Linked DNA regions of Homo sapiens. The protein of the gene in region 1 purifies or fractionates together with the protein of each later gene. This does not show direct contact. Each region holds a gene or a part of one and is shown on either strand. Other genes may lie near its edges. The genes, in order: ZMYND19, TMOD1, PRAG1, MKLN1, ITM2C, CCDC183 and RMND5A.

Region 1 (3,922 bases):
CCTGCTGGGTTCTAAAACCCCATGTTGGCAAACCAAAGATGGCTGAGCCTGATCAGTCCTGAGCCACCCCAGGCCCACCTCCTGTAGCAGGGGGTTGTGTAAGGCAGCAGCCCCAGCGCAACTCGTCCTGCTGTGCCCTCAGAGAATGGGCATCCTGCCGTGCCCACAGAGAATGGGCTGACCAGGAGCATCAGCCCAACACCCCCTTTCCAAACGGCTGTTCTTAACGGCAGTTATCTCCTCTCCTGATTATAAAGGGTGCTGAGAGGATTCAAGGTAACATTCAGTCACAGGCTGGCCGGACCCTGAGTCTTGTTGAGAACCGGCTGAAATGACCCGCACCATGGCAGGGACAGAAGGCATTGCCAGGTGGAGTGGTGAGCAGCGGGCGAACTTGCGGAGTTGGGAAGGGCCCATCCCAGCATCAACACTGAGCATGTATCAATGTGGGACAACGCAGGAGGAGATGCTACAGATGCTGCTCTGCCTGCCAAGCACGCCTTCCCCTTCCCCTTCCCTTTTCATGTAGAAAAGTGATTCTAAGCAAGCTAACTACAGTTCATCCCAGGGCTTCCCCAGACACCACTAGAACAGGGTGCCTGCTTCAGTCCGCAAGTGCTAGGTAGTGCCCATGCCGCCTCCCAGAGAGGAGCCGGGAGTGGGGGCGCAGAGCTGGAGGCAGCAGCATCCCTGGCTCTCCACATTTCAGTCAGGATACCAAAATGTACCCTATTTTTGTTTCAGCCAAATTGACCTTTGTTTCTGTTTCTTGCAACCCAAAGTTCCAACTAACATAATCCCCGAAAGAATAAAAACCCCATTCAACAATCGTAAGAGGCCTGGCTTCACTCACAAGCAGTATGAGGAAGGTCAAAACTCTAATATTAGAGCAAGGACCGGGCGTGGTGGTGCACACCCGTAATCCCAGCTACTCAAGAGGCTGAAGCGGGGCCAGGCGTGGTGGCTCACGCCTGTAATCCCAGCACTTTGGGAGGCTGAGGCAGGCGGATCACCTGAGGTCAGGAGTTCAAGACCAGCCTGGCCAACATGGCAAAATCCCACCTCTACTAAAAATACAAAAATTAGCCAGGCGTGGTGGTGGGCACCTGTAACCCCAGCTACTAGGAAGACTGGGGCAGAATTGCTTGAACTGGGCAGGCAGAAGCTACAGCGAGCCAAGGTCGCGCTACTCCAGCCTAGGCAACAGAGCCAGACTCCGTCTCAAAAAAAAAAAAAAAAAAAAATGCTGAGGCAAGAGGATTCCCTGAAGCCAGGAGTTCAAGAACAGCCTGGGCAACATAGTGAGACCCATCCGTAAAATTAATTAATTTAATGAAATAAACAGAGCAGGGAAAAAAAAACACCAGCCCAACAAGAACGAAAGACACTTCAGGCTCTGCCTTCGTCCTGAGAGGCCCAGTGAGGAAGGGATGGGGGGGGATTTGTAGGACTCCCTCCAGGGTGGCAGGAACAGCAGTTTGGGAGTGGCATTTTGGAGGCCTGGGGACTGTCCCCACATCACCAACCAGTGTGTCAGGTGCTCCCACTGTTTCCACCTCGGCTGCCCAGGGCTCTGGCATGACTCTGAGGTGACAACTGCAAAGATTCTACCCACAGCCACCAACCATCACCAAGCCCGAAACACTAAACCTTACCAGCGTTGCTGACAACCATCTGCTAGGGCAGTTCGCACTGCCTGCACCAGGAAAGGCTGCCCAGAGGCTTGAGGACGTGCCCAAAAGCCCCAGGGCGCCAGGGGAACATGTCAGTGAAGCGTGTGTGGCTGGGGACTCCCTGGCTCAACTGGGCTCCCAACCCCTATCCTGCTGGTCCCTTGGCTCTTCCCAAGGGCTCCATGAAGTTCACAGACTGGCTGGTTCTAGGGCCAGCAGGAACCGCCCTCCCAGGTGGGAAGCCCATGCAAAGCACTGCTTTCAGGATCACAGGCAGGTCGGGGGCCGAGGGCTGAGCCCTGAACCATTCTCCGCTTTAAACCTTTGCTTAAGGAAAACTGTTTAGCAAAAGAACACAACAAAAAGACCCATCTGTGTGCACAGAAAAGAATCCTGAGGTGAGGAGAGAAGGAAGGAATCCTGAGGTGAGCAGAGAAGGAAGGAATCCTGAGGTGAGCAGAGAAGGAAGGAATCCTGAGGTGAGCAGAGAAGGAAGGAATCCTGAGGTGAGCAGAGAAGGAAGGAATCCTGAGGTGAGGAGAGAAGGAAGGAATCCTGACGTGAGCAGAGAAGGAAGGAATCCCGAGGTGAGGAGAGAAGGAAGGAATCCCGAGGTGAGAGAAGGAAGGAATCCCGAGGTGAGAGAAGGAAGGAATCCTGAGGTGAGAGAAGGAAGGAATCCTGAGGTGAGAGAAGGAAGGAATCCTGAGGTGAGCAGAGAAGGAAGGAATCCTGAGGTGAGGAGAGAAGGCTGATGCCTCCCAGGGGTGTGGGGCAGAAGCCCTGCTCACACCGAGTCCCGACGCTGGCCCTGCCCTGGAGCAGGCAGCCCTTCTCCCCACTGTCATGCCAGCTAAAGGGAGGTTCCCAGAGCCAATTATAAGAGGAGCAATGCAAAAACACACACCATCAAGATCCTTCCCGCTCCCATGAAGAAAAGGAGGATTCCACGCTTTGGGGAAAAACAATGAAATTCCCAAAATACACAGAAGCATCAGGGCTCAGAGGAGGAACAGGAGACCCTCTTGGAAACAAGAGCTTTGGCGGTGGCCCTCCTCAAAAGGCGCCTCTGCTGGCATCGCCAGGCCCTGAGAAGACCCACCTCTGCTTGCTGGAGGTCTCTTCAGCCTTGGGCCGCCAGCCCCACGGCACCAGTTGCAGGTTGTCCAGGCGATTGTCCACGGTCACAGCGTTGAGGTGCACCACCTGGAAGCCCGGGGCCACGCCCCCCCGGTGCCGCTCCCTAGAAACAGACAGCAAACCCTGCATCTAACCCTGCATCGCTGCCTCCCACCCTCACAGACATTTCTGGTCAGGTACCAAAGTCCTTCCAGGAAGAAATGTCAGCCATGTGATCTGATCGGGCCCCTGGTCCTTTGGATGAGGGTACCTCAGGCGGAAGCTGCTGAGAGAAACCCAAGCACCTGATCTGTGGCCCAAACAGGACAGGGACACAGGGAGGACCCGGCCCCTGGACTTCAGAGCACAGACAGCCAAAGCTGGAACGCAAAACCACCTAAGCAGATGGCCTCGAGACAGCTCCCCATCTGAGTGGTCCCTACCATGCACACCGGGGGGGCTCGGCAAAACCCAGCAAGGGGAGCAACCACCGTCCCTCCAGAGGCTGCCGGTCCTGGGCAAGCTCCCAGCAGAAAGTCCACTTGGTGTTTGAAGTGCAACATACAAATCATTCGTTCCTTTGGGTTAGTGGTGAAGGACACAAAAATAACTGCGAGATTCAGGGAAGGCAAGGCAGGGCTTCAGCGGGGCAGGGGGCTCCAGGCGCCCTGTGCCATCGGAGCTCACCCAGGAGCCCAGTGGCGGGGGGCAGAGACAGCTTGGAAACACCCACCACAGCAGCTCATGAAGGAGTCTCCCAGAGCCCCTTCCTCGGTTCTTGTCAAAGGCATAGGCAAATATCTTAGCACCATTTCCATCTGCATCCACTTCCATTCGGGCCTGAGAAGGAACAAGGGAAAGAGCTGTTAAAAAACCTCCAATTCTCAGCAACACTTCAATTCCCTCTTAGAAAAACCAAGTGAAACAAGCAAGCCAGAGGGACAAATGCCAGCCCTGTCCCTGAGACCCTGGGGAGTGCAGAGCTTCCCACAGGCACATGGCTCCCAGGGGCCAGCGTGGCCCACCACCACTCTGTCTATTCGAGCAAGAAACACTCACAAACAACTCTGCAAAATACAATGGGACATAGACAAATACATTTTCCTACCCTTAAAAAAAGCCCACGGTGC
Region 2 (4,456 bases), about 40 Mb from region 1:
TGTGTGCAGCCTTGACCGAGAGCCACTGGTCTTGTCTCAAGCCCTCATTGGAAAGAGAGGTTGAAGCCTAGACAGGGGAGGAGAACTGCCCAAGGTCACACTGACATCAGGGGCATGGTCAGGGCTGGAACTTGGGTTTCCTGACTCTTCATTAAGGGCTCCCATATTGTCTCTCTAACAGGAAACCATATCTAATCAAGTGACTTGGATATTTTTTAAAAAATCACCACCAAATATTTGCTAAATACCGTATTCAGGGAGAGGTGGAAGAGAAAATATCCTTCTCTGACCTCCAGAAGCCTACAGTCTAGTAGCAGAAGCAGACGTGTATCTAGATATGTCTAACACCACATAGATTCTGAGGCATACACCAGGTGCTGTGGGAGAATTAGAAAGGGAGAGGAGGAATCCAGGAAGACTCCCTGGAGGAGGAAGAGTTACTCCTAGTCTTGAAGGATAGGGCCATAGAGTTGTTAGATAAAATACAGTATGATCAATTGAATTCAAATTTCAGAGAACAACAAATATGTCCCAATATTGAATGGGGCGTACTTAGCTAAAAAAAAATCTGGTGTTGGCCGGGCGAGGTGGCTCACGCCTGCAATCCCAGCACTTTGGGAGGTCAAGGTGGTGGATCAAGAAGTCAGGAGTTCAAGACCAACCTGGCCAAGTTGGTGAAACCCTGTCTTTACTAAAAATACAAAAATTAGCCGGACGACAAAAAATACAATATTTTTTGTATTGTATATATATATATATAAAGTATTTATATATTGTATATATAAAAAATACAAAAATTACAGGATGACACTCCTGTAATCCCAGCTACTCGGGAGGCTGAGGCAGAGAATTCCTTAAATCTGGGAGGTGGAGTTTACTGTGAGCCGAGATCTCGCCACTGCACTCCAGCCTGGGCAACAGAGCGAGACTCCATCTCAAAAAAAAAAATTTGTTGTTTATCTAAAATTCCAAGTCAAGTGGGTGCAGAGAATCACCAGCAGAAGGGAGAGTACTAGCAAAAGCAGGAGCAGCTATGAGCAGGGGCTGTTTGTGTAGCTGGAGCAGAGAAGCTGTTGGGAGGGGGAGTGCAACAACACTGGTGAGGTGGGGCCAGCCCAGGGAAGGCCTGTGAAGCCAGGCTCTGGGTTTGGATTTGGCTGTACAAGCCACTGTCCTCCCATCTGGACAGCTGCAACAGCCTCACAGCTCTGCAGCCACATCCATCTCTCCCCTCTGTAGTGAGTTCTCAACACAATAATCAGAACTCAGGTCAGACCATCTCACTTCCTGCTCAAGCCTCTAATGGCTTCCCAGGCTGTTCCTAGGAAAAGACACCCGAACTCCTTACTCAGCCTAGAAGACCCTGTAGAATCTGACCTTGCCTAGGTGAATAAAATCTACTCCAGAGGGTTATTGGGCAGATCAAGGAGGGGAGTGTCAGGCAATGGTTCTCAACCTTGGCTGCTCATTGAAACCATCCAGGGAGCTTTAAAAATGCAGGTGCCTGAGCTCCACCCCCAGATATTTTGGGTTAATTGGTCTAGGGTGGGACTGGGCATCAGGAATTTCAACAGATCCCCAGGTGATTCCAGTGTGCAGCCAAATTGGGAATGATGGATACAAAGTGTCTTCCCTGGCCCAGAGCATGTGCTCAGTGAGAGGGGTGGTGTTGCCATGCGTCTGATTATTACCGCCACACATCCAGCTTCTATCCTGTTTCCCCCAGCAGTGATTGTCACAGCTGTGTCATCACTGGTGTCCTGGCCTTGGCCTCTTCCTACTCTCCACCTCCCAACATGCAGCACAGAGCAGCTGGAAAGGTCTTTCCTGAAATGCCAACCTGACCTTCCTCCCTCACTGGCCTGCCACTCTCTGAACCTCGAGGCTTTCCCACCTGCATTCCTCTGCCTGTAATGTTCTATAGCCCTTCTCTTAACTTGACCAACACTTACTCCTCCTTTGCATCCCAAGTTCCTCTTTTATGCTGTCTTAGGACTGAACTTTTTCCTCTACCACACTCAGCATACCCTGTGCTGGTTTTTCATTGTGTGGGAACTTGCTTGGCTCCTCTCTCCCCCAGCACACTTTCAGCTCCATGAGCGGAGACCCAGTCTTTCTTATTCTCCACTGTCCCCACCAGAGCCTAGCACACAGTGCTGGGGTGGGCCTCATTACATGTTGAACAAATGAATGGATGAAAGAATGGCTGAGCACGGGAGCAATAAGATCAGGTTGGCATTTCCAGAAAGAGCTTTCCAGCTGCTTTGTGCTGCATGCTGGGAGGTAGAGGGAAGGAAGAGGCCAAGACCAAGACACCCGTGATGACACAGCTGTGACAATACAGCCAAAGAATGATCAGGCCTCCATTAGGATGGAGATGATGGGATGGGAGGGGGACAGATCTCAGAGACACTGGGATGGTCAAATGGGCTTATGGGGAGAAGGTGCCACATTCCCTGATGTTTTACCCTGAGGGACAGGCAGGATGACAAGATGGAAAGAGAGCCTTCCAAAGAAAGAGGCTGTCACTGGAAAGAGCCATTCTGGTTTGGCCACGTTGAGCTGGATGTGCCAGCAGGACATCAGGGAATCAGAGGCCAGGGGCAGAGCAGCCTGGGCTGGGGCTGGGGATTTCAGAGTCACATCAATAGAGGTGAGAGTAAAAGTAAAATAAAATTTTGAAGTTTTCATGCAAGTGTTTCTTGCCATTTCTGTGAGCCAGAGTTCCCGGGGTTTGGAGTGTGGGTCCCTAGGAGGCTCTTCTGTCTGCAGAGGCACATCATGAGCCCTTCCCTTGTCCCTGCAGCGATCCTGGGCATGCACACGCTCATGAGTAACCAGCAGTACTACCAGGCCCTGAGCAGCAGCTCCATCATGAACAAGGAGGGGCTCAACAGTGAGTATGCGCCCGCCCCCAGGAGGGACCTCATGCTTCTTGCTTCCTCCACTCACTGATGTTCTCTGGCTCATTGCAGAAGTTTTAACATGTTATATAGCCAAATCTGTTCATCCTTTCCTTTGAGTCTCCTGGGATTTGTGTCTTGTTTACAAAGGCCTTCTCTATCCCAGTATTATAGAAATGTTCTCCTATATTTTCTTCTAAAAGTTTTAGAGATTTACTTTTTATATTCAACTTTTTCTTTTTTTAGACAGGGTCTTGCTCTGTCAGCCAGGCTGGAGTGCATTGGCACAATCTTGACACACTGCAGCCTGGACCTCCTGGGCTTAAGCGATCCTCCCACCTCTGCCTCCTGAGTAGCTGAGGCTACAGGTGTATGCCAGCATGCCTGGCTAATTTTGTTTATTTTGTATGGAGATGAGGTCACACCATTGCCCAGACTGGTCTCGAACTCCTGGACTCAAGCAATCCTCCTGCCTCAGCCTCCCAAAGTGCTGGGATTACAGGCATGAGCCACCACACCTGGCCTTATATTCAACTTCTTAATCTACCTGGAGTTCATGTTTGTGTGTGCTGTGGGATGAGACCAAACTTTCATTTTTTCGAATTAATATCCAGTGGTCCCAACACCATTCCTTGCAAGATTTATCCTTTCCCCACTAGTTTGGGGCCTGCCTTTATCATCCACATGGATCTGTTTCTAGGTGCCTCCTCTGTTTCATGAGCCCTTTTGTCCTTTCCTGTGCCAATATTGCATTGCCTTAATTACTCCACTGCATTGTTCCAAAGCTGGCATTTTGGCCCCAAACAGAAATGAGGCTGCCAAAAAAAATAATTATTCCTCCCTCTGGAAGATTGATGCATTTCTTTCCCATCCGGGCTTCATCTTAGCCTCCCAAGAGTCCACTGAGGTCATGAGCCCCGGGAAAATGACTAGCCCTGCCTTACAGATGTAGACCCAAGGTTCAGAGAGTTTAAGTAATTCACCCAGTTCTTGCAGGACGTCAAAGGCAGAGTCCAAGTAGAACCCCAGCCTCCTGGCTCCCTTGCGGGGCTTCTTCTGAGTGGTGCCCCCTACCCCCACCCAGCCCCTGTGATGTGCAGCCCTCACGTGCCCCAACCCTGCACATGCTCCCTTCCACAGTATCTTTGTGTTGGCAGAAAGTGAGCCCCTTGTTTCTGTGAGCCACCTCCCTTTCATCGGTCACTCTAGGCGTGATTAAACCCACACAATACAAGCCTGTGCCCGACGAAGAACCAAATTCAACAGACGTAGAGGAAACGCTGGAACGGATAAAGAACAACGACCCAAAACTTGAAGAAGTTAACCTCAATAATATCCGGGTAAGGTCCATTTATTTCACTTTACCTGTGTGTGGCTGGGGGAGGGGGAACCATGTCACCCAAATGCAAACGGTCCAGGGTTGGTTGTGCAGAGTAAACAGGGTCCTGTTTGGATTCTGGGTGTTTCTGCATTGGGAATAGGGACAAAACCTTTGCAAATGGGAGCCTTTAAGAGGGGTGGGCAGTGTAAACAAGTGCATCTGGCAGTCCTGG
Region 3 (4,456 bases), on another chromosome or scaffold:
CAACTAGCTATGGGCAAATTACTTAACCACTTTGAGCCTCAGATCCTCCATCTGTAAAACCTACCTAACCTGTAGGATTACTGTTAGGATTAGAGGTAAGAGTCTAGTTGTAGAGTGAATGCTCACACAAATGATATTATTACTATTATTGTTCAAGATGATTCCTAGGTCGAATGCTCCTTCTGGATCTAACATTAGAAGAATGACCTCATTATCCATCTCCCTCACTACATCATAGCTCTATAAGGAAGCTTATATTCACACCTACATACTCAGATTGTGGCAAAGTACCTGGCCTATAGTAGACACTCAATAAAAACCTGGTCAATAAATGAATAAACTCTCCGTTGCACTAAAAGGCAACTGTTTTCTTAACTCAGCTAAAGCACAGAATGTGTCTTATATTCATACTACAAATCTCATTGCACCATGTCCTGGGGCAGAGAGAGAGTGAAGCTGCTGAGCACTAAGTGTTAAAAGAATGCTTAGGGGTCAGGGGTGGTGGCTCACACCTGTAATCCCAGCATTTTGGGAGGCCGAGGTGGGTGGATCATCTGAGGTCAGGAGTTCAAGACCAGCCGGGCCAATATGGCAAAACCCCATTTCTACTAAAAATACAAAAATTAGCTGGGTACCGTGGTGCACACAGATAATCCCAGCTACTCAGGAGGATGAGGCAGGAGAATCGCTTTAAAATGGGAGGCGGAGGCTGTAGTGAGCCAAGATTGTGCCACTGCACTCCAGCCTGGGCAACAAAGTGAGACTCTTATCTTACAAGAAAAAAAAGAATGCTTAGGAATCAACTCCCCTCCTAATGCCCAGACAGGTGAAATGACTTGCTCAGGCCACAGTTCTGCCCAAGCCAGCACCAGCCAGTGGCACAGCAGAATGCAAGGAGGGAGTGGTACCTACTTTCACAGCATAGGTGCTGCCGGGGTCCTCAGAGCAGGTGGCACAGTAATAAATGGCATCCCCCGAGTCACAGCAGGGCTTGTTACAAGTCAGCTTGAAGAGCGACCAGTTATTCTCATTGAAGTGGAGCTCCTTTTTCTGGCCGCCCATGAAGAGGTCCTCACATTTGGCTACAAGGCGGGCCAGGGACTGGGTGTAGAGTCCCCCCAGCTTGGCATAGGTGCCCTCCTTGCTGCTGATGTTGCTCAGGAGACCGTGCAGCTGAAGCTGGGTGCTCCCGGTGGAGGCTTGACTGGACACGCTCAGCTGGGAGGATGAGGCGGAGGGGGCCCCTTTGCACTGGAGGCCAGGGCTCCCGCAGCCGCCTCTGTTGCCCGCCAGCCCTGCTGCCGGAAGCCAGTGGCCACTGCCTTTGAAAGCTTTCTCCAGAGGATCGGAAGAGGAGAAGACAGGATGGTGGCGGTTCCCGGGGCTCAACGAATAGCTAAAGTGAGATTCGTCGTGGACGTTGGTTTCCGAGTGGCTTAGGTTCAGCTTGGGGCTTGCTGTTCCGGGCTTGGGGGAGCCTTGGGTCCAGAAGAAGCCATCCGGTGAAGAGGCTGCCCGGCTCACTATCTTTTTCTGGGGGAGTGGAGGGGGCTGCTGGGGGCCACTGGGGGACACGTCCTCAGTGGAGCCTGAAGGAAACGGAACGGGAGCAAAGAGCTTCTTCCCGCTGTTGGTGGGCGAGTGAGCCAGCTCAGACGAGGGACCTGAAGAGGAGAGACAGAAACCATAAGACCAAGGCCAGTGCCACTCAATTCCAGGGTCCTGCAGACTTGTTTCCCTTTATTTATTTATTTATTTGGTCAGAGCAATTAATTTTATGTTACTTCTTTTCTATTTCTCTAATAGACAATATATGCACAATGGAAAAAATCAAAATGCAGAAAAGGTATAGATTGACAACTAAGTCTTCCTCCTACCCTGTCCCTCATACTCAGCTCTCTCATCAGAGGAAACCACTGTCAGTAGTGTTTCATGCATCCCTCCAACAATCCAAACAAATGCGTGCCTGCACGCGTGCGCACACACACACACACACACACACAAATTACATAGAAAAGAGCAAACGGTGGCTACTGTTTGGAATAATGCTTTTCTTTCACATCTTGGAGAGATTTTTAAATCAAATATGCAGATCTATTTAATTATTTTAAACAGTCTCACCATAATATATCACCATATGCAAGTATCATAATTTAACCATCCCTTTTTGATGGACACTTAAATTGTTTCCAATATTTTGCAAACAATGCTGCAACAGCAATAACAAACTCGAACATGTGTGGTTTCCGTGGAATTTTTTAAAAGTCAGGTTTATAGAGGGTGTAACTGGCCAATGGTAAAATTCTCCCTTTTGGCTGGGTGCGGCGGCTCATGCTTGTAATCCCAGCACTTTGGGAGGCTGAGGTGGACGGATCACTTGAGCTCAGGAGTTTGAGACCAGCCTGGCCAACATGGTGAAATCCCGTATCTACTAAAAATACAAAAATTAGCTGGGGGTGGTGGTGCGTGCCTATAATCCCAGCGACTAAGGAGTCTGAGGCAGGAGAATCGCTTGAGCCCGGGAGATGGAGGTTGTAGTGAGCCAAGATTGCGCCACTACACTCAGCCTGGGTGGCAGAGTGAAACTTCATCTAATAATAATAATAATAATGGGTTGCAGCCCTAAGGAAATGTGTACTTAGGATGTGTGCCCCTCATTGAGTTCTCCATGCCACATCACCCTAAGGGAAGAGCATGGAGTGTCTCTATGCCTTTCCACACCTTGGCAGTAGGACCAGAAAACAACAAAAAAAAGCAGAACAAAAGCATAGGAGAAGACAAGGGGTAGAAGGCCCCAAAGGAAGCAAATTATGAGTCTTGTGTCACCTCACTCAGGTGCACAGGACATTTCTAGGGCTGCTCCTGAACAGTTAATAACCTTCTAGCTCACACTGAGCCCTTCTCTGCTTTCTCCAACCCAAGAGGGAACAGAATAGATCCCTGAGGCTCAAACACCAGTTGCAAGCCACATAGATCAAGACTGGGTCTCTTTATTTCTGCTGCTCCACAGGGAGGAGGGTCTCTCTAGGGAGCAAGATGGATGGCCATGGGCTGACATTCATGCCCCAGCCTCAGTGACCGAGGCAGCATTAGTGAGCGACAGCAGGGCACAACCTTGAATGCAACGCTGACGGGAGGACAAACTCAGTGCATGCAACCTGTTGAACACAGGAGCTGAGAACCAATGGATTCATGCAAAGAAAAGCCCTGGGGAGCTGAGCAAGACTATGGGGTCCTTGCACCAATATCCTCCTTGGCTCTATCATCTATCATAAGACTCAACAGGGGCTGGGCACGGTGGCTTATGCCTGTAATCTCAGCACTTTGGGAGGCCAAGGCGGGAGGATCACTTGAGCTCAGGAGTTCAAGACCAGCCTGGGCAAAATGGCGAACCCCCAACTCTACAAAAGATACAAAAATTAGCTGGGCGTGGTGGTGCATGCCTATAATCCCAGCTACTCAGGAGGCTGAGGGGAGAGGATCACTTGAACCTAGGAGTCAGAAATTGCAGTGAGCCGAGACTGTGCCACCGCACTCCCACCTGGGCTATAGAGTGAGACTGTCACAAGTGAAAATGAAATTCAAGAGGGAGCACCGTGTTTCTTAAGCTCTCCTTGCCCACTTTCCCATCTGTAGTAAGCAATCCTTGTTTCCCTGTGGTTTATCAAGATCATAGGGAGTTGCCCTTCCCATTTGCTAATGATAGGCGGGGCCCCTGGCAGCAAGGCTGAGTGAGTGATTTATACCCCTTCCAGGAGGGCTCAAGTTAATAATAAATCAAGCAGTGGTGGTGCAGTCTGGACCAGTCACTTTTACATGCCCACGAATTTCCCCCTCAATAGTCAGAATGAAGGGCGCAGAAGAAATAGCGAGCCAGAAGAGGGAAGATCTAGATGGCAGTGATCTCAGCAGGTGCTGAAATCCTGCAGTCCACAGGTCTCCCCATCCCACGCTCCCCAGGAAAGCAATGGGGACAGACGGAGGCTAGGGCAGATGATTCACTTCCTCTCCCTCCTCCCTCTAACAGAAGAGGCTGAGAGCAGGAGGAGGATCAGTTGCCACCTCCTGGATAAAAAAAGGAGGGTAAGACCACCTACTTATGAGGCTCTCAAAGGACTGTAAGCCTCAGTCACCAAACTCCCAGCCTGATGAGCAGGAGGACTGGGAGCCGTGAGCACACATCCACTTCCTGACCTTTCTGCATTCTGGGCAGCAGAAACCGTCACCAGCGAGGCGTCTGATTCTCAATTTATCATCAACACAACAGAAGCTGAGGCTGGGAGATGGGAGTGGGGTGTGATCAGAACCCTGGTCAATGCTTTCATCAGTGCCCTCAGAGACAAGGACAACCTGCCTACGGTCAGGATTCCTTCCCATCCCAAGTCCAGTCGGCTAGGGAGGTTCATAACAGATCAGTTTCCTGGTTAGTCTCTTCTTTAAGCCTTAGGCTTATTTC
Region 4 (4,456 bases), on another chromosome or scaffold:
GGCAAGAAGAGTACAGACACCAAGACTAGGACTGGAGAACTAAAATGGGGCACATCATAAAAGAGTCTGTGAATTATGTTAAGTTTAGACTTAATCCTGAGGGCAGGGAGAAACCATTAAAAGATTTAAAGTGAGGAAGAAAACCCACTAGGTTTGTATTTTTAAAAATATGTTCTTTTCTTCACTAGCACTAATCTAAAGGTAAGGCTGTCACTTTATTTTTCCTCTCTGTGTACAACCATAACTCCATGAAGATAGGGCCCTCATTCACAGTTGTACTCCTAGTGCGTAGCTTATTGTCTGGCACCTAGTAGGTGACCAAAAAATATCTGCTCTATAAATGTTAAGGCATATGGTTCTATTCTTTACTGGTAACACAGAATAGCTGTATCCTGCTTGCAGTGTGGAGAATGGGTTGCAGGGAGGGGTACATAGGGAGAGGAAGTCTAGAGACAGAGGCCAAATAGGTGATGTTAGCCCAAACTAGTTCATAGTGAAGCAGCAATGGGAATAGAGAGAAGATGAGGCAAAATTGGCATGACTTGATGTTAACTGGCTAGATTAGTGAACCTGAGGGTAGCAGTATTAACATCCTCTTGTGAAAATTAAGGCACCCAACAGTAACACCAGTCGAAACTAGAGGGTTAACCCATCTCTACTCCTAGGGTAGCCATGGACAGAGACGCTATTTTCCTTAAAATCTAATTTGGGTCATTTACAAATGTGGAAGCAAAAGCTGAGACATTAGGTAACTTGCTTAAGGTTAACTAAGGACTGAAATAGACTCCGGAGAGCTAGAACAGTGGTTCTCAATCCCAGCCGCATATTAGAATCCTCTAGGAGAGAGAAAGTTGGGGGAGGAGTAAAAGGGACATGGGAAAAAGAATGGGAAGGAGGGAAAAGGAAGAAAGTGAGAGAGGCAGAGATGAGGGGAAAAAAAAACAGAAAAAAAGAGAATAATTTCCATTTCACTCTAATGTGCTAACAGAGTCACTGAGGTTCCTCAATTCCAAGTATAACTGCAACAGTTTTAGGTGGGAAATTTTTCCAAGTAATTCTAACCAGATGCTCAACCCTGCCATAAAAATCCTCAGTAAACAAGCCTTTGAACAATGCAACTCACAGGAACATTGTCAAAATTAACCACTTGGAAAATATACACCTAGACAAAGAAGTGGTATTGTTAAAACTTAGATCAAGACACTGATATTAAACCTTTGAATAATCTATTTTATTCAGAAAAAAAATCCAAACTCCTTGCATTTGTAACAAGGCACTAAATACTCTGACTCTTATCTCCGTAGCTCTAACCTAGTTTCATACCAACTTTTCCAATCCTCAATACGTACCAGTCCCACTATTTCTGAACATCCCAGGTTCCTTCCTGCTTTGGGAACTCTGTACTTGTTCTTCTCTCAGTTCTTCACATGGTTCTTCCTAATTCTCTACTTTTCATCTTAAATCTTAAAGATTACCTCCTCAAAGATGGTTTCCCAACCTACTCTGTTTAAATGAGACTTCCCTTGTTATTCATTATCACGGCATCCAGTGTATTTTATTCACAGTACTTAGAACACAACTGCAGGTCTCTCTCCACTAGAATGTGAGTCCTCTAAGGGAAAGGATCTTATCCTCCAGGTCCATAGATGAATCCCAAGTGCCTAAAATAATCTTGGGCCTACAGAAGACAATGAACTAAGTGGGGAGGGAAGGAGGAAGGGAGAGGGACAAACTTAGATGCTAGTAGATGGTCAACAAATATTATTAATGAATTTATTTGCATTGTGGGAAAATTCAATTGTGTAAACCAATTACACACTGAACACACACAGTAAAAAATGGTGATTTTGATTTTAGAAAAATTGATTATAGCAGTAATCAAACAATGAATCCATTTGTCTTTTCTAATAACATCTCCAGTTCACATTAATAAAACCACAATAATGGAAAAAATCCCACAATTTAATGTAAATTTTAAAATAGAATACAAACTTGTATCAACTTTTATACAATAAATAAGTTTTAAAAAGACTAGACAGAAATATATCAAAATTTTAACAAGTTATCTCTGGACAGTTTGACATATTTTCTTTTTTGCATCTTATTTTTCAAATTCTCTACAATGAGCATATTTTTACTTTTATGACCACAACAAAATTAAATAAAAAGAATAATTGCCACACTGCTCTAAAGCTAGCCATAACCATGATTGAAGAATAATTGTCGATACTGTACATTACTACATAATTTTAACTCATTAAAAAATTGTTTTGAATGACAGTCATTAAAGCCTACTTGTCATGGTGAATTTTTATTTTACTAGTTCTCTGTCACTATCACGCATTGCCACTTTTTTTTCTTTTTTGAGACAGAGTCTCGCTCTGTCGCCCAGGGTGGAGTGCAGTGGCGTGATATCGGCTCACTGCAAGCTCCACCTCCCGGGTTCACGCCATTCTCCTGCCTCAGCCTCCCGAGTAGCTGGGACTACAGGCGCCCGCCACCACGCCCAGCTAATTTTTTGTATTTTTAGTATAGATGGGGTTTCACCACGTTAGCCAGGATGGTCTCGATCTCCTGACCTCGTGATCCACCTGTCTTGGCCTCCCAAACTGCTGGGATTACAGGTGTAAGCCACCTCACGTGGCCGCCACTTTTTTCTTTTAATCTTGGGCAGTAGTTTAGCATGGCAGAAACACCTTCCTTGCACTCAAACTTCTAAATCCCAGCTCTGTCATTACGTAGTTGTGTAACTGTTTTCATCTTGTACATTAGAATAATACCACCAATTAAAGATATTCTGGTATATGGTAGGGTCTAAATAAAGAGTAGTAATTATTATCCATGGGAATACATTACCTACTAGCTAGATTATAAGCACTTTGAGAGACTGTGATTGCCTTGTATCCACTGTGTCCGTAGTCTAGCACTGAGTCAGCATGCCATAATTTTCAACATATTGTCATATCAATTACTATCTTCACTACCTTTTTCAGGGAGACCCATCTTAGGATTGTAGAAGGAGTATTACCTCTCTCCTGCTATTTTATTTTTATTTTATAGAGATGAGGGCTAACTATGCTGCCCAGGCTAGTCTCAAACTCCTGGGCTCAAGCAGTCCTCTCACCTTAGCCTCCCAAAGTGCTGGGATTAAAGACATGAGCCACTGCGCCTGACCCTCCTAGTTATTTTAATGGTAAGTTAGAATAACTCTTAAAAGCCAGAGAAAGTCAAATATTAAATCATATAGCTCTACACTCTCCTATGGCAACAGTAAATAAATGAGTAAATAAGACAATTTTAGATAGGGTAAATAATGTTATTACCTATTCAGGTCCATATTTCTAAATCACATGCTAAGCTGCTATTTTAGACATTACCTACTAATTTCCTGTTGTAATAGACGAAGATGTTTACTACACTTACACTATCTTCCCACTATATTTCATCCCAATTTTTGGTTAAACTGGCTGTAGTTCTGCATTATGATTAGGGAAATACTGCTTACTGTAAAGCCAAGAAATTTACTGTGATAATGTCTCCTTTTTTATAAAAAGTTTCGCTTTTCCTGTTGTGTCCCTATCCTTCGTTTTTTACATTAGATGCTATTTATACTCATCAACAGATTTTTCTTCCAAATGCTTAACATATCTATTGAGTCTACTTTTATCTGGAAACCTCCTTTTTGTAGAGACAGGGTCTTGCTTTGTTGCTCAGGCTGGTCCTAAACTCCTAGATTCAAGCAATCCTCCCATGTCCGTCTCTGGACTAGCTGGAATTACAGGCATATGCGACTGTGCCTTGCCTATCTTTTGTTTTTTTGTTTGTTTGTTTTAAAACAAGTTTTTCTTCTTAAATGTGAACAAATATTTTAATTTAAAAATATTTTTGTTGTTTTTGTTTTAAAGGAAGCTTGTATTAATCAATAAAATATCCAGAAACAATGTCTGTGAAACAAGTGCTTTTATCCACATTTGGCAAAAGAGCCAATAATAAAAACACCAATCTATAAGCAACAGCTAAAAAGAAAAGCAGCTGATTTAATTTCTCACTCTATTGTTCAAATTAGCATTTTAAACCATTGCACCTTAATTAAAGCCACTCTTTTAGGTACAATAATCACAGGCAAAGCAACTACTATGTAGGGTAACTATAAATGATCAAAACAGGACACTTTTGAAAATGAATGGAGCACTATTAATAATTATGCCAGGGCAATATGCATAATCTAAGCAAACCAGCCATTCCACTACTAATAACCTCCTAGATGCTGAGCTTTTAAACTTACAAGGTGTTACCAATCCCATGAAGTTCCCCCCTTAAGACACACACCCTACTATGCTAGTGCCTAATATAAAGATCACTACAGTGAAAATAGAAGATGAAAAAAATTAGCAAACACAGAATAAAAAGTTTTTAAGATATTGATTCTTCCTACCCCGCCCCCCAACAAGCACAC
Region 5 (3,359 bases), on another chromosome or scaffold:
CTGCCCCGCCCCACTCCCTCCATGGCCTGCGTCCCCCTCGTTCCAGGGTCCTGTGTGGGACCTTCCCACAGGCCTCTTCCTGTTGTGGCCCTACCCTAGGACCTGGGCCAGCATTTCCTGGTCCCCTCTGTTCCACCCTCGACTCACACCCTTCTCCCCACACCCCAATTCGTTGTGTGGACACCTCCCAGCAGCCCCTGGGTCTGTGCCCTGGGACAGTATTCGGGGTGTCCAGCCACTGTGGGATGCAGCCCCGGAGCCTCACCTTCCCTGGGCTCTCATCCCCGCACAGCCCACAGGAGCCCCCCATGCTGCGATGACGCATCCTCCCTGGAGAACTTGCACTGAATCAAACAGACGGTGGAATCCTGCCGATCCCAGGCCAGGCAGTCCCAAGCATGTATCTACAGGCCCCTCCAGGAGCCCCCTCCAGAAGTAAGAGTGGGCAGACTGGCCCGCCCGGCCATTCAGTTGATGGGATCACACCAGGCTGCCTGGCCTCCCTTACTGATGGAGTGACTGGACTGGCCCACCAGACACAGTGTCTGTCAAGGTTTCTCCAAGACAGGGGTCAGGGATATCCAGGAAGGGCGATGGCACTTGTCCGAGGCTGGATGTGGAGGTAACCGTGATAGGGGCACAAGACTCTTAACAGTGTTGCCTCCAGCTCCACCTCCCCACCCGCCGTGTTAGGCCCCTCCAGGTCTGCAGGCCAGGACAGCAGGTGACAGGAAAGGCAGTCGTGCACAGGCGTAGGTGCCCAACTCTTAGGTTCGTCCTTGACCCCCTGCCAACCCCAGGCTCTTTCTCTGGTGTCTGCACCTCTGTGGAGGGCACGGAGGTGGCCAGGTCCTAGTCCTGCTGGGCCACCCCTTTTCCCAGTCACCGACTCAAGGACTTGGAGGCCAGAAGGGACCTTAGGGATCATCATGCTTTACTGATGGGGAAACTGAGGCCCAGAGAGGTCTGCCACCTAGAACCTGGCAGACCCAGCTCATCCTCCCTTCCGTTTGTGAAGCTGGGAAGCGCCTTGCCCAAGAATCAGCTCATCTCCTCACTGGCAGCCCCAGACCCTGACCTGATGCCCCACCGTCTCAGTTTCTCCATCTGCGAAATGGGTCTCACAGTCCCTGCTCTTCTTGCTTCCGCAGGCTTTTGGGGCATGTAGCGGACGGGTAGGCAAGAGGGGGCCTTACGGAGTGCGTGTATGACCAGCCTCTCTGACTGTCTGTCTGTCTCTCCGCCTTGCTCAGCTGGCCCGAGATAACTTCTTCCGCTGTGGTGTGCTGTATGAGGACTCCCTGTCCTCCCAGGTCCGGACTCAGATGGAGCTGGAAGAGGATGTGAAAATCTACCTCGACGAGAACTACGAGCGCATCAACGTGCCTGTGCCCCAGTTTGGCGGCGGTGACCCTGCAGACATCATCCATGACTTCCAGCGGGTGAGGCTGGCCAGGGCCTGGGGGTGGGGGGTGGGAGGGTGTCCCGGGGACTCAGGGCAAGGGGAGCAGGGATGAAAGGAGACTCCTCGGAGTACAGCAGGTGTCTACGGTTAGGCTTACCAGGGTCTTCAAGACACTGCTTTTCTCCTGTTAGCAACAATGGTTCTTGCTGAGTATGAAGCAGCCGAGGCTGATTTTCTCCTCAGCCTCCTGCCAGCTGCACGCTGGCTGTCATGGCAGGGCCAGTGCGTTGTATCGAGGGGTAGTACATTCACCATCGAGTGCATTGCGTGTACAGCTCAGCGGGTCTCTGCAGAGTGGGTCTCATGCGTATTCATGTAACCCCCATGGGTCCTGAGACAGGGCATCTCTCGCTGGGGTCCAGGCTGTCCCAGGAATGGCTGGCCCTCACAGGTTTCATAAATGCACAGCTGGGATGTTACCATGTTCCCCAAACCTCAGCTCTGTAAACATGAGAAGAAGCTTTATAACAACAGAGGCGTTTAGCAATCAGCTGCTATTTTCCTCTATCATGTGGCACCTTCTACAACAGGCTAAGAGAAGACCAGGAAAAGGGAGTGCCCGCCCAGGTATTGAGGAGTCTGGAGAGGACTCTGCTCCTGAAGGCCCAGGGTCCCAGGAAGGCATGGTGGGACTCCTGCCCCTGCTGGCCAAGCTGCTTTTTTTTTTGGAGACAGAGTCTCGCTCTGTCGCCCAGGCTGGAGTGCAGTGGCACGATCTCGGCTCACTGCAAGCTCCGCCTCCTGGGTTCACACCATTCTCCCGCCTCAGCCCCCCGAGTAGCTGGGACTACAGGTGCCCACCACCACGCCTGGCAAATTTTTTGTATTTTTAGTAGAGACGGGGTTTCACCATGTTAGTCAGGATGGTCTCGATCTCCTGACCTTTGATCCGCCCGCCTCAGCCTCCCAAAGTGCTGGGATTACAGGCATGAGCCACCGCGCCTGGCTGGCCAAAGCTTCTTGCAGCCCTGCCTGGGTCAGCTGTCACCTCCTGCAGAGACTGACCCAACCCCTTCTCCTGCCAGGGTCTGACTGCGTACCATGATATCTCCCTGGACAAGTGCTATGTCATCGAACTCAACACCACCATTGTGCTGCCCCCTCGCAACTTCTGGGAGCTCCTCATGAACGTGAAGGTGCGCAGGGGGTTGGGGGGATGTCTGCAGCATCCTGTCCCTCCCTTGCCCCCTGTCTCATGGAGGCTAGGTCTGAGGTACAGGAAGTTCCTGTGTCAGGGGTTGGGGGAGCAAGAGACATTGCTGGCACCTGGGCCCTGTACCCAGATTGGTCTCGCCTCTGCTATCCCCCTGCTTCCACATCTCCAGAGTCAATGCCCCGAGACCGGCTTCCTTAGTGTTCAAGGTTGTACCCTGGGTACGGACTCGTGCGCATGCCATTGCTCCTGGCAGCACAGGTGCAGGCACCGGGCACAGGCAGGAAGTGCCTGAGGACATCAGAAGGGCCAGCCCAGGGGCCTCTGGAGGAGGGAGGTGGGCTGGCATTTCGGGCGAGGGGTTGGACGAAAGCCTGAGGGGCCGACTCACTGTGGCGGCCACCTTGTTTTGCAGAGGGGGACCTACCTGCCGCAGACGTACATCATCCAGGAGGAGATGGTGGTCACGGAGCATGTCAGTGACAAGGAGGCCCTGGGGTCCTTCATCTACCACCTGTGCAACGGGAAAGACACCTACCGGCTCCGGCGCCGGGCAACGCGGAGGCGTGAGTGGCTGGCTTCACCCACAGTAGCCCCTGTCCCGTGCCCCAGACCACAGTTATCTTCACGCCTAGCCCAGCTGTCAGAGAGCTCAGATAGCAGCAGCAATAACAGCTAGCATTAGCAGAGCACTTCCGTGTGCCGGGCAATGCTGTGTGCTCTTTATGACCTCTTAAGAGT
Region 6 (4,456 bases), 790 kb from region 1:
AGGGACAATCCAGGACATGGAGGGGAAAACAGACCCCCCTACTGCCCACTCCCTGACAGAGCTGGGAGAAGGGATCAAAGGGACCTGCATGGAGGGACTAAATCAGAGAGAGGGGCTTCAAGGAGACGTGAGCATAAGAGCAACACGGGCCCCAAAGCCAGAATGGACAGGAAAACACCCACCTGCTTCCATGGGCAGCAAATCTGGACGGGACCACAGGACCCTGCCATCCCTCTCCTTTGCCTCACCCTCCCCACCTGTCCACCTCCCCGCACCTGTCCACTGAGAGCCCTTCAGACAGCTGCTGCTGGGCAGTGGAGCGGTGTCCCCCAGGACAGGGCGGGAGGAGGGATCTTGGCCATGGAGGGGGCATCCCCCTGGACCCTGGGGCCTGGGGCCTCCCTGATGCAAGCCTCCCCCAGGGGATTCCAGGCCAGGCCCTTGGCCCAATCCTAGCCACTGTGTCCCCTCCACCTGCCCACAGAGCAGTGTCGGGCACTCCAGATCCAAGGGGTGAAAGAGAATATGGACCAGAACAAGGCCACGCTGGCCCTCCTGCGCAGCAACATCCGCCGCGGGGCCCAGGACTGGGCTTTGGCCAAGAAGGTACACAAACGCCGCCCCTCCCCTCTGCCTGGCGAGCAGGGCAGGAGCTGAGTACACACACACTCGGAGGGCGGGCACCTCCTCTCCACCCCCACCCCAATCTTTCTGGATCCAGGGGGCATGTGAGGAGGGGCTCTGCTAGGACCTGTGCCCTGGGCTCCAGTCACCCCAGCATCCGGTGGGCAGGTTTCCCACCACCCAACCCGAGGGCTTGGCATCTGTGAGCCCACATCCTGCAGCAGGGGCCCCCTCTGGCTCTCCGGCCAGCTAGGGGACACCCAGGCCCTCCTCTGCATACCCCCCTACCACGTCGCCTCCGAACTTGGATGGCCAGGATGGGGTCCCGCGGCTCTCTGCTCCTCGTGGAAGCAGGGATCTCGCTACTGGGCTAGCGTGGGATACAAGAGGCCCTGGGGAGAATGCCTGGAGGAGCCAGCGGCTGCGGGTGCGCAAAGGGCCCGCTCTAGCTCAGCCGCCGCCGCTCCGCAGTATGACCAGTGGACCATCTCCAAGGCCTGCGGGAAAAACTTGCCTTTGCGACTGGCGCACTGCCGCAGCACCATGGAGGTAACCAGGCAGGAGGGGCCTCGAGACCCAACCCTCCCCACCCCTGCCAGCACCCCCCCACTAGATGTTGCGGAGCCGACGAGGGACGGAGCAGGTGCCCAGCCCCAGGTTCCCTGTGGGGTTGCCACGAGCCTCCACCCGCCCGCCTGCTGGCGGGCTCCATGGCGGCCCCCTACGCAACCACGAGTGGGCGGTGCCCTTCCCGACCCAGGTGGTGCGGGAGAAGCTGCGCAAGTACGTCTTCGACCGCGTGAACATGCACAACCTACTGATCCACCTGGTGCGGCGGCGCGGGCAGAAGCTGGAGAGCATGCAGCTGGAGCTGGACAGCCTGCGGAGCCAGCCCGACGCCAGCAAGGAGGAGCTGCGGCTGCTGCAGGTGGAGAGGCGGGGCTGGGAGGGCGGGGCGGAGTCCACTGGGGCAAGACTCACGGGAGGGGCGGGGCCACCGGGGGGCGGGACTTGCGGGTCCCCTGGGGAGGGCTCACGGGAGGGGCGGGGCTAAGAGAGCACGACCCTCTCCGGAGAAAACCCAGCCCCGACACCCTCCGGGCGGCCGGTCCCCACGCCCTCTCACTGCGCCCTCGGTCCGCCCCAGATCATCCGCCAGCTGGAGAACAACATCGAGAAGACAATGATCAAGATCATCACCAGCCAGAACATCCACCTGCTGTATTTGGACCTGCTGGATTATCTGAAGACAGTGAGCCCAGCGGCCCGGGAAGGGCGGGGGTCAGGGGCTGGGATCTGGGAGGGGCGGGAGCGTCCTGGGGCGGAGCCGCCCCGCACCCGCCAGGGAGAGGGAGCTCTGCCTGACCACCGGCTACGCAGGACGCCGAGGCATGTGGAAAACGTTTTTTTAAACTTCATTTTTGGCTATTCCAAAAAAGCATATCGTGGGGTATATCAGAATTCTTCGGACTTTCTTGCACGTATTAAATGATTTGGTATTGTTTGTATCTTGCCTGTCATTTTCTCATTGCCTGGGCCTCTGAGAGTCAGACAGGTCCTGCACCCTCAGAAAGTCCTTGCACCTTTGAGGGTCCGCTGGGCCTGTAAGCAGGGCTTGCTGCCGTCCCAGCCAGCCCACCCGCCCTGCTCCCTGCAGACGAGGCCAAAGGCAGCCAGCAGTCCGATTGTGAGGGAAGACCCCCTTCATGGGAGGCTGAGCACCGCCCCTCGGGCTGCCACAAAGCAGAACCTACTCCAGATGGGCTGTAGATAGGGAGAGCACAGGAGGTGCTAAGAGGAGCAACCTGTGGATGGGGCGGGGAGCCAGCTGGAAACACCCTCACCCTAAGACTGGGCAAAGGGGAGCTCTGGAGAGCCATGCTTCGGGAAGGTGACAGCATGGAAGTGCAGTTTAGGAGGAGTGGTGGACGGAGGCTGCATCGCAGCTCTTTTCCTGCTGTGGTCCCAGCCCAGGTGGCTCTCAGCACCGTCCTCTGCTTGTCCCTCTTGCCTTGGCCCCTGGTCCTATTGGCTCACCTGGAAGCCCTGCCCCTCTATGCTTCCTGGGCCCACCCCTCTCCCCACCCCTGTCCATGCCCCTCCTTCGCCTGGGTGCTTTCTGTTCCTCTGGTAGCGCCTTCTTCTGTTTAGAACATACACACTTAAAAAACAATTATTCCCGGCCTGGGCATGGTGGCTCATGCCTGTAATCCCAGCACTTTGGGAGGCCAAGGCAGGCGGATCACTTGAGGTCAGGAGTTCTAGACCAGCCTGGCCAACATGGTGAAACTTCATCTCTACTAAAAATACAAAAAGTAGCCTGGCATGGTGGTGCATGCCTGTAATCCCAGCTACTCGGGAGGCTGAGGCACGAGAATCACCTGAACCCAGAAGGCAGAGGTTGCTGCAAGCCGAGATCGTACCATCGCACTCCAGCCTGGGTGATAGAGTGAGATTCAGTCTCAGAACAAAGGAAAAAACAAGCAATAATTCCCATAGTCATCCATATTTTTAAAAATGAAGATTCTACACTTCTAGTTTTGTTTTTGTTTGTTTTGTTTTTTGAGATGGAGTTTCACACTGTTGCCCCAGCTGGTGTGCAGTGGTGAGATCTCGGCTCACTGCAACCTCCGCCTCCCGGGTTCAAGCGATTCTCCTGCCTCAGCCTCCCGAATAGCTAGAATTACAGGCGCCCACTACCACGCCCGGCTGATTTTTTTTGTATTTTTAGTAGAGACAGGGTTTCACTATGTTGGCCAGGCTGGTCTCTAACTCCTGACCTCATGATCTGCCTGCCTCCGGCCTCCCAGTGTTGGGATTACAGGCGTGAGCCACCGCACCTGGCCTATACTTGTAGTTACAAAAAACAAACCACTATAGCAAAGCTATCCTGAGCACGTATGTACCTGGTTCTGGGCTAAATAATTCCTTTTACACTCAATTCATCCTGATGGCAACCTTCTGAACGAGCCATCATCTTACAAATGGGGACACAGAGAGATTAAGTAACTTTCCCAATGTCACACAGCTAAACTAGCTGGTCAGAAGCTGCCTTGGCCTTGAATCCTGACTCTCTGACCCCAAGCCCATGTCTTGAGCCCCTCTGTTTCACTTCAAAGCAGAACTGTCCCCAAACCTCCCCGGGTTTCAGTCAGCCTTTTCTGCAGAGCATTTCATCACAAACTCTCTCAGTCTCTCTGGGTTGTTGGACCCTAGGTGGTGAAAGAGTCCACCAGGCCAGCACTGTCCACTCCCTGTGAAACACCTTTCATCACCGTTGTGCCCAGCGGGGAGTGGGGGAGGTGGCTGGGGCCACAGAGGAGAACCTATCACTGTTCTCAGGGCTCTTAGTCGGGGGATAAAAGCTCGGGGCAACTGCAGCCCACTCTGTAGGGGCCACAAGAGAACCCCATTCAACACAGGTGCTGGCAGGATACCCCATTGAGCTGGACAAGCTGCAGAACCTCGTGGTCAACTACTGCTCAGAGCTGTCGGATATGAAGATCATGTCCCAAGATGCCATGATGATCACGGATGAGGTCAAGGTGAGCTCAGGGCCCAGGGCTGGGGGCCCCCCAGGGCCAGCCCTCTTGGATCTTCGGATGGGGTCAAGGTGAGCTCAGGGCCCAGGGCTGGGGGCCCCCCAGGGCCAGCCCTCTTGGATCTTCGGATGGGGTCAAGGTGAGCTCAGGGCCCAGGGCCGGGGGCCCCCCAGGGCCAGCCCTCTTGGATCTTCGGATGGGGTCAAGGTGAGCTCAGGGCCCAGGGCTGGGGGCCCCCCAGGGCCAGCCCTCTTGGATCTTCGGATGGGGTCAAGGTGAGCTCAGGGCCC
Region 7 (4,456 bases), on another chromosome or scaffold:
AGGCTGAGGTTAGGGCTAGGCTGGCTCCAGGGGCACCAGGCATGTCATCAGGACTGATCTTGTTCTCTTCTGTCAACTGTTGGCTTTATTTTCAGGGTAGTTTTCTTCACATGGGGTAGAGATGACCAATGGAGCTCAAAAGACAGGAACATGGCCATTTTGTTGGAGATACTCCAGGGAGTACCTTTATTATTCCGTTATGGATCCTTTCCCTGAATCAGTAACTGGGACCAGGGAGTGAGGTCTTCTGGCCACCTTGAGCTGTGCTCACCCCCTCAGGAGGTATATGGCCTTATAATACACTGTTCATCAGGTAAAGAGACAGTTCTAGAAAGGAACACTTAAACCCAGACAGAGTAATATATGTCTATTACAGTGCAACAGCTACATGTTATATCAGTAACATTCTCTGAGATGTTTTCCTGACTAGCCTCGCCTTCTCAGCTTTTGCCTGGCCTCCTAACTATAATGCTCATATAATTCAAGTAGTGAGTTGTTAGTATGACTTAATCTATAGACTAGAGAATACAACTTGGTTCATGTTCCTCTAGAACTTTTTTGAAATTACTTTAATGCTTGACATAGTAAAGTAATTTTCCTAAAGTTATTTTATTTCTAAAGTAGTTTCTAACTCTGGATAATAACATTGGTAAGGAGAAACTTGCCAACACTTCTGTGATACTGTCATACTAGAGCTAATAGAGAAGTTTCTGTTGTTTTCATGTCTTAGTCTCTTAGTCTTTAGGATGATGAAAATGGTGTTTTAGCAAACTGTTCACTTGGAATATTAAAACTAACTTATTTTTATTTAGGGCCCTGCTTCTTCATCTGTAAGGCTTCCAAAATCTTTAAAAATGATCCAAAAATGCAGTTTAGGGAGAAAATTGTGGAGGGCCCTGGCTCTGAGCTATGTGTACTTGGAGACCCGTGGTACTTCCAGGAGATGATGCTCTCTAACTGGACGTTTCCTTGAAAGCTCTGAGAGTAGCAGACACTTCTGGCCATTCTCTTTAGATTAGATGTTAACTCAACCCTTCAGAGAACAAAGACTAGACTGTCTGGCAGGACTCGAGGATTTTGAGAAATACAGTATGCTTTCACCTTATATGGGTGTGGTGATTGTGTGGCTGAGCTCAAAATGGTTGTTTGGGAATGTCGCTTGGAGAGGCCATAGGCTTATATTACCAAGTCTTTCTCCACTTAAGATGGAGGCCTGGATGGTGATTTCGTCTGTTATGGGGGCACAATGTAGTGTCAGGCTGTGTGTTATTTATGATGAGTTTGTTGTATCTGCAGAATTCATATAGGTTTAATTCATCTTATTGATACATGAAGACATTTGGGAGGAGATGAGGAGAGAATCTTTTAAAAGAAACATTATTCATGGCCCTGGTCCTCCAGGAACTTGGAGGCTAATTGAGAAGATGAATCTGTATTTGTGGAATAGTACCTAAAATTTTGACCCTGGGCCCAGGAGGTCTGGGTTTGAATCCTTGCACTGCCAATTTACTGGTTCTACAATCTTTTTTTTTTTTTTTGGAGACAGAGTCTCACTCTGTCACCTAGGCTGGAGTGCAGTGGTGTGTGATCTCAGCTCACTGCAACCTCTGCCTCCAGGGTTCAAGCGATTCTTGTGCTCCCAAGTAGCTGGGATTACAGGTGTGCACAATGCATGGCTAATTTTTGTATTTTTAGTAGTGACGGAGTTTCACTATGTTGGCTAGGCGGATCTTGAACTCCTGGGCTCAAGTAATCCACCCGTCTCAGCCTCCCAAAGTGCTGGGATTACAGGCATGAGCCACCACGCCCGGCCTGATCCTACAATCTTGCTTAGCCAGTTTTTCCTTCAGTAAACTGACATCACAGAGTTATGAGAGTGAAATAAATAATAGACGTGAACTGGCTTTGAAATTTGTAAAACAGGGTAGACGTGTTATTTATAAAGTCTGTGCCTTAAGTGGTGTTAAGCTTTTTTTTTTTTGAGGCTGAGTCTCGCTCTGTCACCCAGGCTGGAGTGCAGTGGCATGATCTTGGCTCACTGCAACCTCTGCCTCCCAAGTTCAAGCGATTCCCCTGCCTCAGCCCCCGAGTAGCTGCGATTACAGGCGCATGCCACCAGGCCTGACTATTTTTTTTTTGTATTTTAGTAGAGACGAGATTTTACCATGTTGGCCAGGATGGTCTCGATCTCTTGACCTCGTAATCTGCCCGCCTTGGCCTCCCAAAGTGCTAGGATTATAGGCGTGAGCCACCACGCCGGGCCCAAGCACTGTTTAATTGAGACATTTTGGGTAATATTTAGGTGTCTTTATTACTGGTTTATGTTAAATACCACTCTGTGTCCAGTGGTCTGCTTAACATTGTAAAGAATGCTTAAAAGGTATAAGAAAGAGTCTTTAAGGAACTTAGAAGTTAGTTGGAGAGACCAGACTCATATTTGAAAGGGGGAAAAAACAAGACCACGGCACACAGTGTATAACAGTGCTTCTGGTGAGTACAGACACCAGTGAAGAGAGAGAGCCCTTAGAAAGAACTGCATGGGAGTAGATGGGCATTATTTCAACTGAACTTTAGATCACCTCATCAGTAGTTATTAATCACCATTTATAGGTAGAACTAAGCAAAATCTTCTAGGAGTTACAAAGAACAAGCATTTTCATCCTCTAAGAACTTTGTGTCCAGTTAGGGAGATGAGACTGGCATTTTTTAACAAACACACAAACAAAAGCAGTGCCCTGTAATGCACGGTTATGTATCTAGGCTAGATGCTACATGAGTGGTGTGGACAAAAAGGGGTGGGATTTGAGACAAGGAGAGACTCTTTTTACCTATGGGAAGTTTTAGTAGCAGAGATTGAATATGGATAGCAGAAAGAGCAGATGGAGTGCCTGGAGGGGAGGATGGCAAGAACAAAGGTGTAGAGGAGTGAGAGGTGAAGGACCAGATTGCAGGGGAAAGGCGATAAGAGCATTAAAATTAAATTGGAATCAGGTTTTGTAAAGCCATGGATACCAGGGAAAGTAGTAGACTGGGAAGATATTGAATTACTTTGGGGTGGGGTGGGGACATTTTGAATAGGGAGGGGACAGGGACACGATCAGAGACCAGTTGTCAGCAGTATTTAGGTTGGTTTGGAGTTGGGAGTGAGGTTTGACTAGAGGCAAGAACGTTAGCTAAGGCTAAGTGTCAACCTAGATTTGATGAAATAGGGACCTGTCTTTGGGTACTGGTGGTAGAAATTTAAAGGGACACATGAAAGGGATTTCTGAGGGAAGGAATGACCAGGAGTTGGTGCACAGATGGAGTCTGGCAGAGTAGGAGAAAAGGGCAGGAAAAACCAAAGGTTAATCCAAGGTTTTAAACATGAATGATGGGTAGATCATTATGGAACCAGGTAGAAAATAGGAAGTTTAGGAGAGGGGAAGGTGGAAATCTGAGTTTGATTTTTTTTTGTTTTTGTTTTTGTTTTTTTGGGGGGTGGGGGAGGGGGGGTCTCATTCTGTTGCCCAGACTGGATTGCAGTGTCTCGGCTTACCACAATCTCTGCCTCCTGGGTTCAAGTGTTTCTTCTGCCTCAGCCTCCTGAATAGCTGGGATTACAGGCATGCGCCACTACCGCCTGGCTAATTTTTGTAGTTTTAGTAGAGATGGGGTTTCACCATGTTGGCCAGGCTGGTCTTGAACTCCTGAACTCAAATGATCCACCCACCTCGGCCTCCCAGAGTGCTGGGATTATAGGCGTGAGCCACTGCACCTGGCCTGAGTTTGATTTTTAAATATGAAATCCAGATTCCAATGCTACAGGAAACCTAATGTGGTTCCACCATTCATTTCAGAGATAAATGAGATGCCTAGAGATTAAGTCTTTATATTTGGAATTTGAAGGGAGTGAATAGGTTCTCTAAAATGTGACTGTCACAGACATATGTTTAAAATCTTGTGCCTGTATCTTTTTTCTTCTCTCTGCAATTCTTGCCTCATATACTTTGAAGCCTTTCCTGTCTTCTCTATGATAGTCATTGATACTGTTCTTTGCTCCAGGAGCACTATTAGTCTGTACCATGTAATTTCACTCTAAATATTAACTTTATTTCGTTTTTTTCCCCTCATGTTTGGTTTGCAGCACACTGTGCCTCTAATTTGATGCACAGTCTTTAATAATCTCTCTGGATCAGAACACGTGTCTGTCAGTCTACTGTTCTCTGAAAGGTCAGGAGTTGAACACCAAATACCATACTTTCTTTTACTTTGCAGATTTACCAGCTACTAATATACTGGAAAAATTTTGTTTTCAGTGTTTACCTCCTCCAGAAAAAAATGAATGTGTTCTATTTGTGCCTTTTCTCTTTCCTCTAAGCAGCCGCTGTGTCCTAGGTGCTGAAGTAGCTCACAAGAATCCCAAATTTCAATGGGCCGCAGTTTATTTTACTACAGACAAAATGAAATAGTCCCTTAT

What was found.
Region 2: the proteins of ZMYND19 (region 1) and TMOD1 purify together in Homo sapiens (affinity purification with mass spectrometry; one large-scale study listed by BioGRID and IntAct). This does not show direct contact.
Region 3: the proteins of ZMYND19 (region 1) and PRAG1 purify together in Homo sapiens (co-immunoprecipitation; one large-scale study listed by IntAct). This does not show direct contact.
Region 4: the proteins of ZMYND19 (region 1) and MKLN1 purify together in Homo sapiens (affinity purification with mass spectrometry; 3 studies listed by BioGRID and IntAct, with this or other methods). This does not show direct contact.
Region 5: the proteins of ZMYND19 (region 1) and ITM2C purify together in Homo sapiens (co-immunoprecipitation; one large-scale study listed by IntAct). This does not show direct contact.
Region 6: the proteins of ZMYND19 (region 1) and CCDC183 purify together in Homo sapiens (affinity purification with mass spectrometry; 3 studies listed by BioGRID and IntAct, with this or other methods). This does not show direct contact.
Region 7: the proteins of ZMYND19 (region 1) and RMND5A purify together in Homo sapiens (affinity purification with mass spectrometry; 4 studies listed by BioGRID and IntAct, with this or other methods). This does not show direct contact.

What each region holds. Positions count from the first base shown.
Region 1 is NC_000009.12:137,584,192-137,588,113, forward strand, and holds part of ZMYND19 (zinc finger MYND domain-containing protein 19), read right to left. Parts: intron 3,633-3,922; coding exon 3,526-3,632; intron 2,917-3,525; coding exon 2,776-2,916; intron 1-2,775. UniProt on the Homo sapiens protein: May be involved as a regulatory molecule in GPR24/MCH-R1 signaling.
Region 2 is NC_000009.12:97,559,926-97,564,381, forward strand, and holds part of TMOD1 (tropomodulin-1), read left to right. Parts: intron 1-2,806; coding exon 2,807-2,896; intron 2,897-4,112; coding exon 4,113-4,243; intron 4,244-4,456. UniProt on the Homo sapiens protein: Blocks the elongation and depolymerization of the actin filaments at the pointed end. The Tmod/TM complex contributes to the formation of the short actin protofilament, which in turn defines the geometry of the membrane skeleton.
Region 3 is NC_000008.11:8,326,798-8,331,253, forward strand, and holds part of PRAG1 (inactive tyrosine-protein kinase PRAG1), read right to left. Parts: intron 1,665-4,456; coding exon 913-1,664; intron 1-912. UniProt on the Homo sapiens protein: Catalytically inactive protein kinase that acts as a scaffold protein. Functions as an effector of the small GTPase RND2, which stimulates RhoA activity and inhibits NGF-induced neurite outgrowth.
Region 4 is NC_000007.14:131,446,137-131,450,592, reverse strand, and holds part of MKLN1 (muskelin), read right to left. Parts: intron 1-4,456. UniProt on the Homo sapiens protein: Component of the CTLH E3 ubiquitin-protein ligase complex that selectively accepts ubiquitin from UBE2H and mediates ubiquitination and subsequent proteasomal degradation of the transcription factor HBP1.
Region 5 is NC_000002.12:230,874,367-230,877,725, forward strand, and holds part of ITM2C (integral membrane protein 2C), read left to right. Parts: intron 1-1,253; coding exon 1,254-1,442; intron 1,443-2,490; coding exon 2,491-2,601; intron 2,602-3,033; coding exon 3,034-3,184; intron 3,185-3,359. UniProt on the Homo sapiens protein: Negative regulator of amyloid-beta peptide production. May inhibit the processing of APP by blocking its access to alpha- and beta-secretase.
Region 6 is NC_000009.12:136,798,618-136,803,073, forward strand, and holds part of CCDC183 (coiled-coil domain-containing protein 183), read left to right. Parts: intron 1-484; coding exon 485-606; intron 607-1,095; coding exon 1,096-1,173; intron 1,174-1,384; coding exon 1,385-1,552; intron 1,553-1,771; coding exon 1,772-1,876; intron 1,877-4,046; coding exon 4,047-4,169; intron 4,170-4,456.
Region 7 is NC_000002.12:86,726,791-86,731,246, forward strand, and holds part of RMND5A (E3 ubiquitin-protein transferase RMND5A), read left to right. Parts: intron 1-4,456.